2 separate regions of the Homo sapiens genome follow, and region 2 is linked to region 1. The links come from fine-mapping of genetic effects on gene expression. A gene starts in region 1. The other region holds a variant in brackets. All regions are shown on one strand. Distances are between the middles of the regions.

Region 1 (4,389 bases):
TAAATAACCATTATCTGAGATAGACTTCTTGATCTCCCTCAAAGTAGGTCTAATCTGCAGAAGGCAGGGAGAGACTGTACTGCACTCTGAATGGACAGCCAGGTATTTTATGAATGGAGGCGATCACGTGATCCCAGCACCTCCCCGAACTGATATTTCCCACATAACTGTGTCAACATTCTCAGAACAGGGGTAGTTGTTTGTGTGTGCGTATGTTTTTAAATTTAACCTAAAATTTCACATTCTTCTTACCTTCTGAACTCAAAAATCTACACACAGACAAATAAGCCGCGAATTTTTTTTCTTGGGAAATCCTTTCAAGATGTCCAAGGTGATGGATGTTTAATTATTTTTTTTATGAATGAAGAGTGTGCTATGCAAATGAGGGCGATTCACAAAAAGAGACAGAACATGGCTGCCACTTCTGCTTCTACACTGCACTGACACTGCAGCAATGTACCTCCTTCTACACCCGCTCAGCAGAAGCGTGTGTTTTGGGGTGGGGAGGGAGTAAGGGAGGAGGAAATGTTGTTTGGCCTTTCTCTAGCTATTTTACGTTAAACAGGACTCGGTACAGACTTTAAAAAGTTATTTCAAAAAGGTCTGACTTTAGTAATGCACTGTATTTAAAGGAATGCATCCAAATGACTAAGTCCTAACTCACTTAACTCTTTCCAACCCTCCGAAGATAAACAAAAGTTGAACTTAATTACAAGAAAACGGATGCTAATATTCTGCTTGGAATTAAATCCCTTCTCAATAGAAAAGTGTTGCCAACCATTATTTCTCCACGCAGCTGTCACGTTAAAGCAAAACATTTAAAAGACGAAGTATTTCGTTTGGAAAGCAAGGAGAAAGCCCAAATAAGCTAAAACTTAAACCGGAATGCTCTAAAAGTTAATGAAATCACCAACATATTCAGCAATGTAAATTCGGTTACATCAACGTAAATCATGTGTTTTCACATAGCTGAAAGGTAAAAATTAGCATTCAAAATTCTTCTCCGTTCCTGAAGACACGTCCAATATTCACAAAGGTAAACTCTAGCTCAACATCGCCCACACTCCAGGTGTCCTTAATCCTATTAAATTCTAAAAATGTTTCCCTAACCCTATTTTTTACAAGAATCTTACAGGTCATAAGTTTAAAAGGGGGAGGGGGGAGAGGGTGAAGGCTTAATCGGTATTTAAGAGTCACTGACTCATCGAATTAAGATTCAAGAGCAGTTTGCTGCAGGAGGTGCTCCCACACATTAGTTTCCAAGTGAAACAGCTATAAAGGAAGTAGGATGGATACTGAAGGTATGGTGACTGGTATGTGAGTGAAAAAGGACGGGACAGGGGTCTCACAGGCAAAGGGGTAGTTTCTACTCCACTTCCATCCATCCACATTATTCCCTCTCATAGACGTACAATTGCCATCCTCTCCCAACACTTAATCCCCTACCCCAAAAGAAAGCAGCTAAATGTGGGAGGATGGGGAGGGGTGCTGCCACTAAAAATGGCTAAAGAAATCAGCTATCTCCAGAAGATGCACCGAACTCTCCAGGGTCGCAAGCTTTCCGGCACCCAAGTTTCGGATGGGTCTGGGGGAGAGCCGAGGGCGGATAGGGGGAGGGGGATTAGCAATCGAGATCAATGAGGCGCTTACTCGTTGTCAGAAGTCGCCGTCTCCTCGCTCATCTTTCCCTCACCGTGATCCGATCTGGAGATGGAGGAGCAACAGCAGGCGGGGGAGCAACAGCAGCACCGAGGGGCAGGAGGCAGCGGCGGCCGGGGGGGCGCGGGGGCAGCGGCACAGGGGCCTCACCATGGTGGATGCCTCACCCAGAACGGTACCCCCCCAGCCGGGAACCCCGGCCACCCCCGCAGGGGGGTGGCGGCAGCAACCTCCGCCGTGGCGACCCCAGCCTCTTCCCCCGCCTCAGTGCCCAGCCAAGGGATCCGAGGAGGCCCGGTGGAAAGGGAAAAAGAGAGGGGCTGCAAAGGCTGACTGGAGAGCTGCTCCTCCAGCCACTGGGGTGGAGCGCAGCGGGGTCCGGCCAGGAAGGAGTCGGCGGGCGGAGAACCCGGGAGCAGAGGCGGCGCTTCCCTCAGGGATGCGGCGAGGAGGAAGCAGAGCTCCGCTCGGTGGGGGCCGGCGGGGGGGTGCCGAGCCCAGGCTCCGGGCAGCGGCGGCGCGGTCCTGCCGGAGCCCACCCCACCATCTCCCGCCTCGCCGCCGGCTGCCCCTCAACCCCCGGCGGCGTCTGGGTCGGTCCTCAGGCGCCGGCAGAGCAGGGCTAGGGGCCCCGCGGCGGCGGATTCCTCCAGACACGCTCCAGCCGGGACTCCTCCTCAGGGGGGTGGAGGGGGCGGCGGGGAGCGTGTGAGGCGAGGGGCAGGCAAACCGATCGTTCCCACCCGGCCGGAGAAGAGCGGGCGGGCCCGGGTCCGGGGGGCAGGATCCCGAGAAGCGGCGGGAGAGGACAAGAGCGGCTGCAGGTTCCCCGCCAGCCAGTGCCCACCAGCAGCTCAGCGGGCCAGCTCCTCACGCCCGAGAGAGGGGAGCCGCGAGGGGGGCGGCGGAAGCGCTCACGCCGCCCGCTCCTTCCGCCGCCGCAGCCGCTGCCCGAACCGGGGGCGCCCGCGAGAGAAGGAGGCGAAGTAGTCCCTCGCGACTTCTCCCGGCCGCCCGCTTTCCCCGGAGGCCAGAGCGGGCGCGGGGTGGGGCTGCCGAGCGGGGTGCCCAGGCTGTGAGGGTGTGTGGGTAGGACTAAAAGCCGCGGCCTCCGGGCGAATCACTGCAACTCGAAGTCATGTGCAGCATAGCAAGTTTCAGGAAAGTAGTTCCCTCCTCCCTTCATTTCCCAAATCGTTGTCGAGCCACTTAGCGGAGAAAGGGGGAGGGAGGCGGAGGGATATCCTCCCTGCACCGTGCTCGGTGTGCGTGCGCGCGCTCCAAACTCTTGGCACGCCGCGAAAGGGGGCGGGGGTGGGAGCTGCGAGGGGAGCTGCTAGGGAGGTTGCATTGTTGTGGCGCGTTACTCCCCGTTACTCTGCTTGGAATATCCGGGTTGCTTGAACGAAGAGGCTAGAAAGACAGTGTGCTCAGAGGGGAAATCTGGAGGCTACTCTCTTCTGCCGTGTGTGTGTGTGTGTGTGTGTGTGTGTGTGTGTGTGTGTGTGTGTTTTCTTTGCAGAGCAAAGAATGGAACTGGCATGAGTTCATCTTTAGTTAGTGGGGGTTAGAAGCAGGGACTGCAAAGAGAGCTCCTCCTGCTGTCCCCCTGGTTGCACTGCTGCAGTCCCCTAGCTGCATGCACGAAGTGTATGTGTGTGTGTGTGTGTGTGTGTGTGTGTGTGAGAGAGAGAGAGAGAGAATATGAGAATGTATGTGTGTTTTAACACCTCGCCTCGCTGCCTGGATTCTTACTGCGCAAGGGGTATGCTATCAGGGCATTCATCTCGGAAAGCTGGAGTGATTGTTAATGGAGAACGACTTCCATTGAAGCCCAGGGTAGGCGTGTTACATGAATCTGGCGCAGCCAGAACGGAGGAAATAACTCCCGCTGCGAGTGAGGTTGCATAACTATAGCGCAGGAGATGCTTCTGTGGCACGAACTGCTCTGAACGGAGGCGGACCGATTGGATAGACAGCTGTCACGAATGCATTGTTAGAAGACAAAGTATGCATTCATCTCAAAAGATTTTTGCACAGAAACCTACTGGGGTTGCGGGCTGGAGCCTAAGGTCAGCCCAGCCACAGGAGTCAGAGCTCCTGGCTCTGCAAATTCTATTATCTGTTCTCCACTTAGAAAACCAGCCTGTACATGAACCACCTTAGGGGACTGAATCCCAAGTGCTCCCAAGTTCCTGACGCATCTTCCCAGATATAAGTCTCGCCCTGCGTGCAATGTTTTTCTCTTCCTTCTCAGATTTGTGCGACCTAAGAATGAAGGTTGCCGCTGGTGCCACATTAAAGAGAACAATTCCCGAGGAAAAAAAGAAGTTGGGAGAACCTCGTTAACAAGGCAGCACTCCTCTTCTACCATCCCTCTCCAGGAATCGCAGGATTGTTGTTCTGAGAATGAGCGTGCACAGTAGTGCACTGTTAACAGTGTTTTGCACGTAGCAGGTGCTTAATAAATGTTTGACGAATGAACAGAGGCGCTAAACCAGTCAATGTACCCAAAAAACCATCCCATTGATTTCTGAGGTCTCTTTATGTAACTTGATTCCTGCCTCAGCAGCAGCATTGTCCTTACTCTTGAGAAAGAGAGGGGCAATGTTGATGATGGTCTGTGCTAGACATGACCTCTAAACCTGCCTTTTTGAACTTATTCTTGCCAAGAACTTATACATGGGAGTGTTGATACTGGCCTCTTCCCCTTCCAGGACTACTGTTAAC
Region 2 (4,389 bases), 120 kb after region 1:
AAATAGAGACTTGGACATATTCAAAGTTTGAGTGGTATTTAATTTGCAAATTATTATCTTTTTTTATTTATAAGATTATTATTGAGCACCAACCACAGAGTAGGCTTGGTGGTAGATACAGAAATACAGAGATAAAGGACAGAGTATTCCTCACCTAAACTAAGCTAAGCTCAAGAGTCTAGTGGGACTTACCAGACACTACCAGGGTGATATCTAAAACAGGTCAGGTGATTTTTTTTTTTTTTTCAGACACAGTTCAAGCGATTCTCCTGCCTCAGCCTCCCAAGTAGTTGGGACTACAGGTGTGTGCCACCACGCTAACCTAATTTTTTTGTGTTTTTAGTAGAGATGGGATTTCACCATGCTAGCCAGGATGGTCTCGATCTCCTGACCTCTTGATAAGTGATTATTTCTTTAGGATTTTAAATAATTTATAATGGGAGGGATACAAAGAGGGAAAGCTAGATGAGCAGCTAAGATGGCCGTCAGTGTTTAGTGTGTCTGTGAACAAAGAGAAAGAGATTGTCTTCAGCATCAGCATTCCTTAAGTGGGCATTTCTCCTGGAATTTGTAGCCCTGATTTTGTTGAAGGTTTCACCAAGCCAGATCCATTGAAAAACTGTGTTTATTACTTTGGTTTTTCAGGGTAGAATTTCAAATTTGGTTTGATGCTCCAAATGTGTTGGTGATCTATACATTCAAGGCAGTGTGCTAGGTGCTGGGGGTACCAAAGATGAACAAAATGTAATCTTTGTCCTGAAAGAGTTCAGTGTCTACTGAGATAGATGCATATACTCTTAACAACGGTGTATTTTATAGCACTTTATAGTCAAAAAACACTTTCACGTAAATGATCTTAATTGGTCTTCACAATAGCCTAATGAAGTAAGTAGAGTCAGTATTGTCAGCCCATTCTACAGATAGACAATTAGATTAAAAACAATGCCTATTGTTTGTCTGGAGATTTACACTATGTTAACTCCATCCTCTATGTTACTGTCCTTAGGCAATCAATCAACAAGGTTTGTTGATTCTATCACCTACATGTCCCTGTAATTTCTCTCACTATTTCCACCACCACTGCCTTAGTTGAAATAAGTTCATCCTTCCTTGCCCAGGCTATTTCAATAACCTCCTAATTGGTCCCCCTGCCTACAATTTCTACCCACTCCAATCTGCCACAGAATTATCTTTCAAAAACAGCAATGATCATACCACTCAGCTGAAAAATTCTTGCTGGCTCCTCTCTCCACCAACATATGCATGGCATAAAGGCACTTCACAAGGCTCCCCCAATAAAAACTTCAAACCTTACCTCTTGATGTTGATCAACCCTGCCCCCTTGCTAAATACACACAGACTAGATGCTCCAGCTACACTAAACTTATCATATTTTTTCAACCCAATGATTGTTGAATATGAGTATCTACCAAACATTGCATGAGACTTGCTCATATTAACATTTTTAAAACCCAAAATTCAAATTAAACTGGCCATCCTGCTTTTTTCTTTGTTAAATCTGAGAACTCTAGTTCCTACAGACCTAAAATCCAGCTCTTATACCCCCTGGCCATTAAGCACTACCGCATGTGCAGTATCTAGTGACAACCAAGGCTGAAATTCCCACCCTGCCTTCATGGAACTTCCAGATGAGCAGAGAAGGTACAAAAACTATTTCTAGAATTGATATTTAACACTCAAAGCCTACATGTTTTTGATAAACATTGACGTGGTAAACTACAGGCCCAAGGACATGTCATGTACTCATCACATAGGAGAAAATAAATCCAAAACATTTTTTCAGTTGCCTAATGATAAGAATATATTGAAGGCAGTCTGAAAAGCTTAGTTGAAAATGTCTCGGTTACACTTTTACTCAAACTACTACAATATTGAGATCAGCGTAACCTTGGTCAAATTGCTTAACTCTTCTGTACTTCCTTTTAAAGTGTGCACGGGGGAGAGAATGGGGC[A/G]AGAGTAGGAGGGTAACCAAACTCTCTTGCCTAATGAAATGACTGTCAAGCTAAACGTGTAATATTAATATGTATTCAGACGAGGGCAGAGGCAAAAGTCAGGCGAGGAGCATTAATTAACAAGTTTTCAGTTCTTGTTGCAGAATGCACAAACCTGGAATTGGAGCCAGGAGATTGCAAAAATGATTCCAGATCTGCATGGTAACAATTTAGACTGACTTCCACTCCTGCCTGAAATTTTGCAGCAGAGGAAGTTCTTTCCCTGGCCGTCTGCCTTCCCCCGCCTCCTCCATCCCCCAGTACCTCAGGCCTCTCACTCCCCACATCTGTTTCCAAGCCAGAGAGCTTAGGGTCACAGCATGGCGCAATAAGCAGCATTAGCAGGCAGCATGAATCAGTGGCAAACCTTTGATTTTAATCCCTTGCCTCTCCTAGAGAGGAAGTGTGGTCTAGTGGTTAACCCACTGAAAAAGCAGCTAGAAGGCAAAATTCCTGGTCCTCTCCATGCCCTTGTTCTATTCTTATTGGGACACGCTGCCTGTCAAACATACTTTTTTTTTTTTTTTTTTTTCCAGCGTCCCTCTACTACATTATTCCCTCAACTGGCTTTATCATAAAACACATGCAGGAAACTGGTTAAACAATTCCTTAGCCTTATTCCAGAATCTCCCAGGGAAAGGCCTGGGAATCTCCATTTTTAACAGTTACTACAGATGAGTCTTTATAATCAGCCTCAGCTCATCTGTATGCCCGTTATACGTCACACCAGGCGAAGAAGAAGCAAGCTTTAAAGGAAACCTAGCCAGGGAACTGAGGCGAAAAGAGTGTATCTACAGAACGATTTGCTTTTACAAGCCCATGTGAGAAAGACGAAAGAGTAGGACAAGGAGATCCGGACTCTAGTTCTGGCTCTGTGTTTCCAGATCTGTGCGAGCATGGACAGGTCAGTGAAACTCCCCTGGTGGCATTCTCATCATCTTAAAAATAAAAGTGATTAGATCATCTCTTTCAGTTCTGTGATTCAATGAATTATTTCTGTGATTTCACAGAAATGCCAAGATGGGCTCAGAAAATCTCTTTTCCTGAAAATGACAGCGGGTGCAGTCACGGAGGTGTGGGCTGACTTGTTTGGGGTTGTGGGAAGACAATGGAGACAAGTGGCAGCCGGGAGGTTTGGGGCCATGGCCGCAAGGAGATTTCTCCCCTCCCTTCTCTCTTAAGGCTCTGCAGCTGGCCTACTTATGCAAAGGCTTTGGTTCCTCTTTCCTTTTTAAAAGCTTTTCTGATTCGTACATTCCCCTGAGGAGCAGAGATTCATCATTTTGCGGAGAACTTGCACACGCTTTCCTGAAAGGAAGAAAGGAGGGAGGGATGGGAGGGGTTGGGTGGATTAGTGAGTAGGCTAGGGTTGGTTGCCAAAGAAATGAGTCTCTCCATGTGTGATAAACATATAACCATCACATTGTTGGCTCTGAATATGCCCAGCAAAACCCTTTGTCCCACTTCCACAATGCCTAGAAGTGTGTTCTCGTTAGTGGACTGGACATCCGCCTACGCATCTGTCTCTGGAGCATTTGGGCATTCTTCCACCCCAGAACAAGTGGGGGTGAGTGAGGAGAAGGAGGAGTGAGTCATGACTGTAGGAAAAGGATGTCTTATGAAGCCAACGCAGAACTAGCTTCCTAGAAACATCATGACAGGTCCCATAAAGCCCACGTTTGGTTCTAATTATAACATGCCCACATTTGAGCATTTTTACAGTTTTCCCATGGTAACAACAGGGTTTCTGAGGAAGAGGACTTTGACTCAAATGTGCTCTATATGTCTAATAGTGTGAGCTGGTTGGACTAAAAAAAAAAGCAGTTATTTTTGCTATTTTACAAAGGAGATACTACTGGCTTGTCTATGCCTATTAACACAGCTATAAATGGGGGATAAGCACATGATATAAATAGGTCAAAATGAGCCAGATAAAATTTAAAAGATATTTTTTAAAGGCCAGGATGAGCAATGTAAACAAAATCAGAAAAAAATAAAAATCTTAAATAAGTGGAATTTGTTTTCCCCCTCAACTTGTGACAAATGGCAAGCTAAAAATAAACAAATAAGCAAGGATTTATTTAAAAAGCAACTTTGGAAGGACGCTTTGAACCATTTAATTCTGGCTCCATAGGCTACACATTCTGATCCTATTAAACCAGGACTGCTCTTTCTGGAGACGATCATAAAGCAGAGCACACATCTTTGAAAAATCAAGTTATGTTCAAGCATGATTTTAGTACCATGTGTTATTTTATTTTATTTACAAAATCTTTGAAAATGGCTAATTCTGAGAAAGTTATTCACAATCATTTGAAATTATATCTTAGTCCTTTGTTATTTTAGACAAATGAACATTTTATTTTTTGAATTAATT

The links. PIP is the estimated chance that this variant, and not a neighbour inherited with it, causes the effect.
Region 2: its variant is fine-mapped to the expression of SPRED1 in whole blood (TOPMed, PIP above 0.99). The same link has a PIP of 0.9 or more in monocytes after R848.

What each region holds. Positions count from the first base shown.
Region 1 is chr15:38,250,479-38,254,867 of GRCh38, reverse strand. It overlaps SPRED1 (sprouty related EVH1 domain containing 1), which reads right to left and starts at 2,032. Exons shown (of 7, transcript NM_152594.3): 1 at 1,651-2,032. The coding sequence starts at 1,682. RefSeq lists silencers at 1,823-1,872, 1,883-1,942, 2,123-2,222, 2,323-2,372, 2,383-2,682 and 2 more.
Region 2 is chr15:38,128,870-38,133,258 of GRCh38, reverse strand. No RefSeq gene overlaps it. Among named protein-coding and RNA genes, the nearest start is that of LINC01852, 58 kb to the right of the region's middle. RefSeq lists enhancers at 2,938-3,067, 3,198-3,247. The variant A/G (reference allele first, on the strand shown) is at 1,974.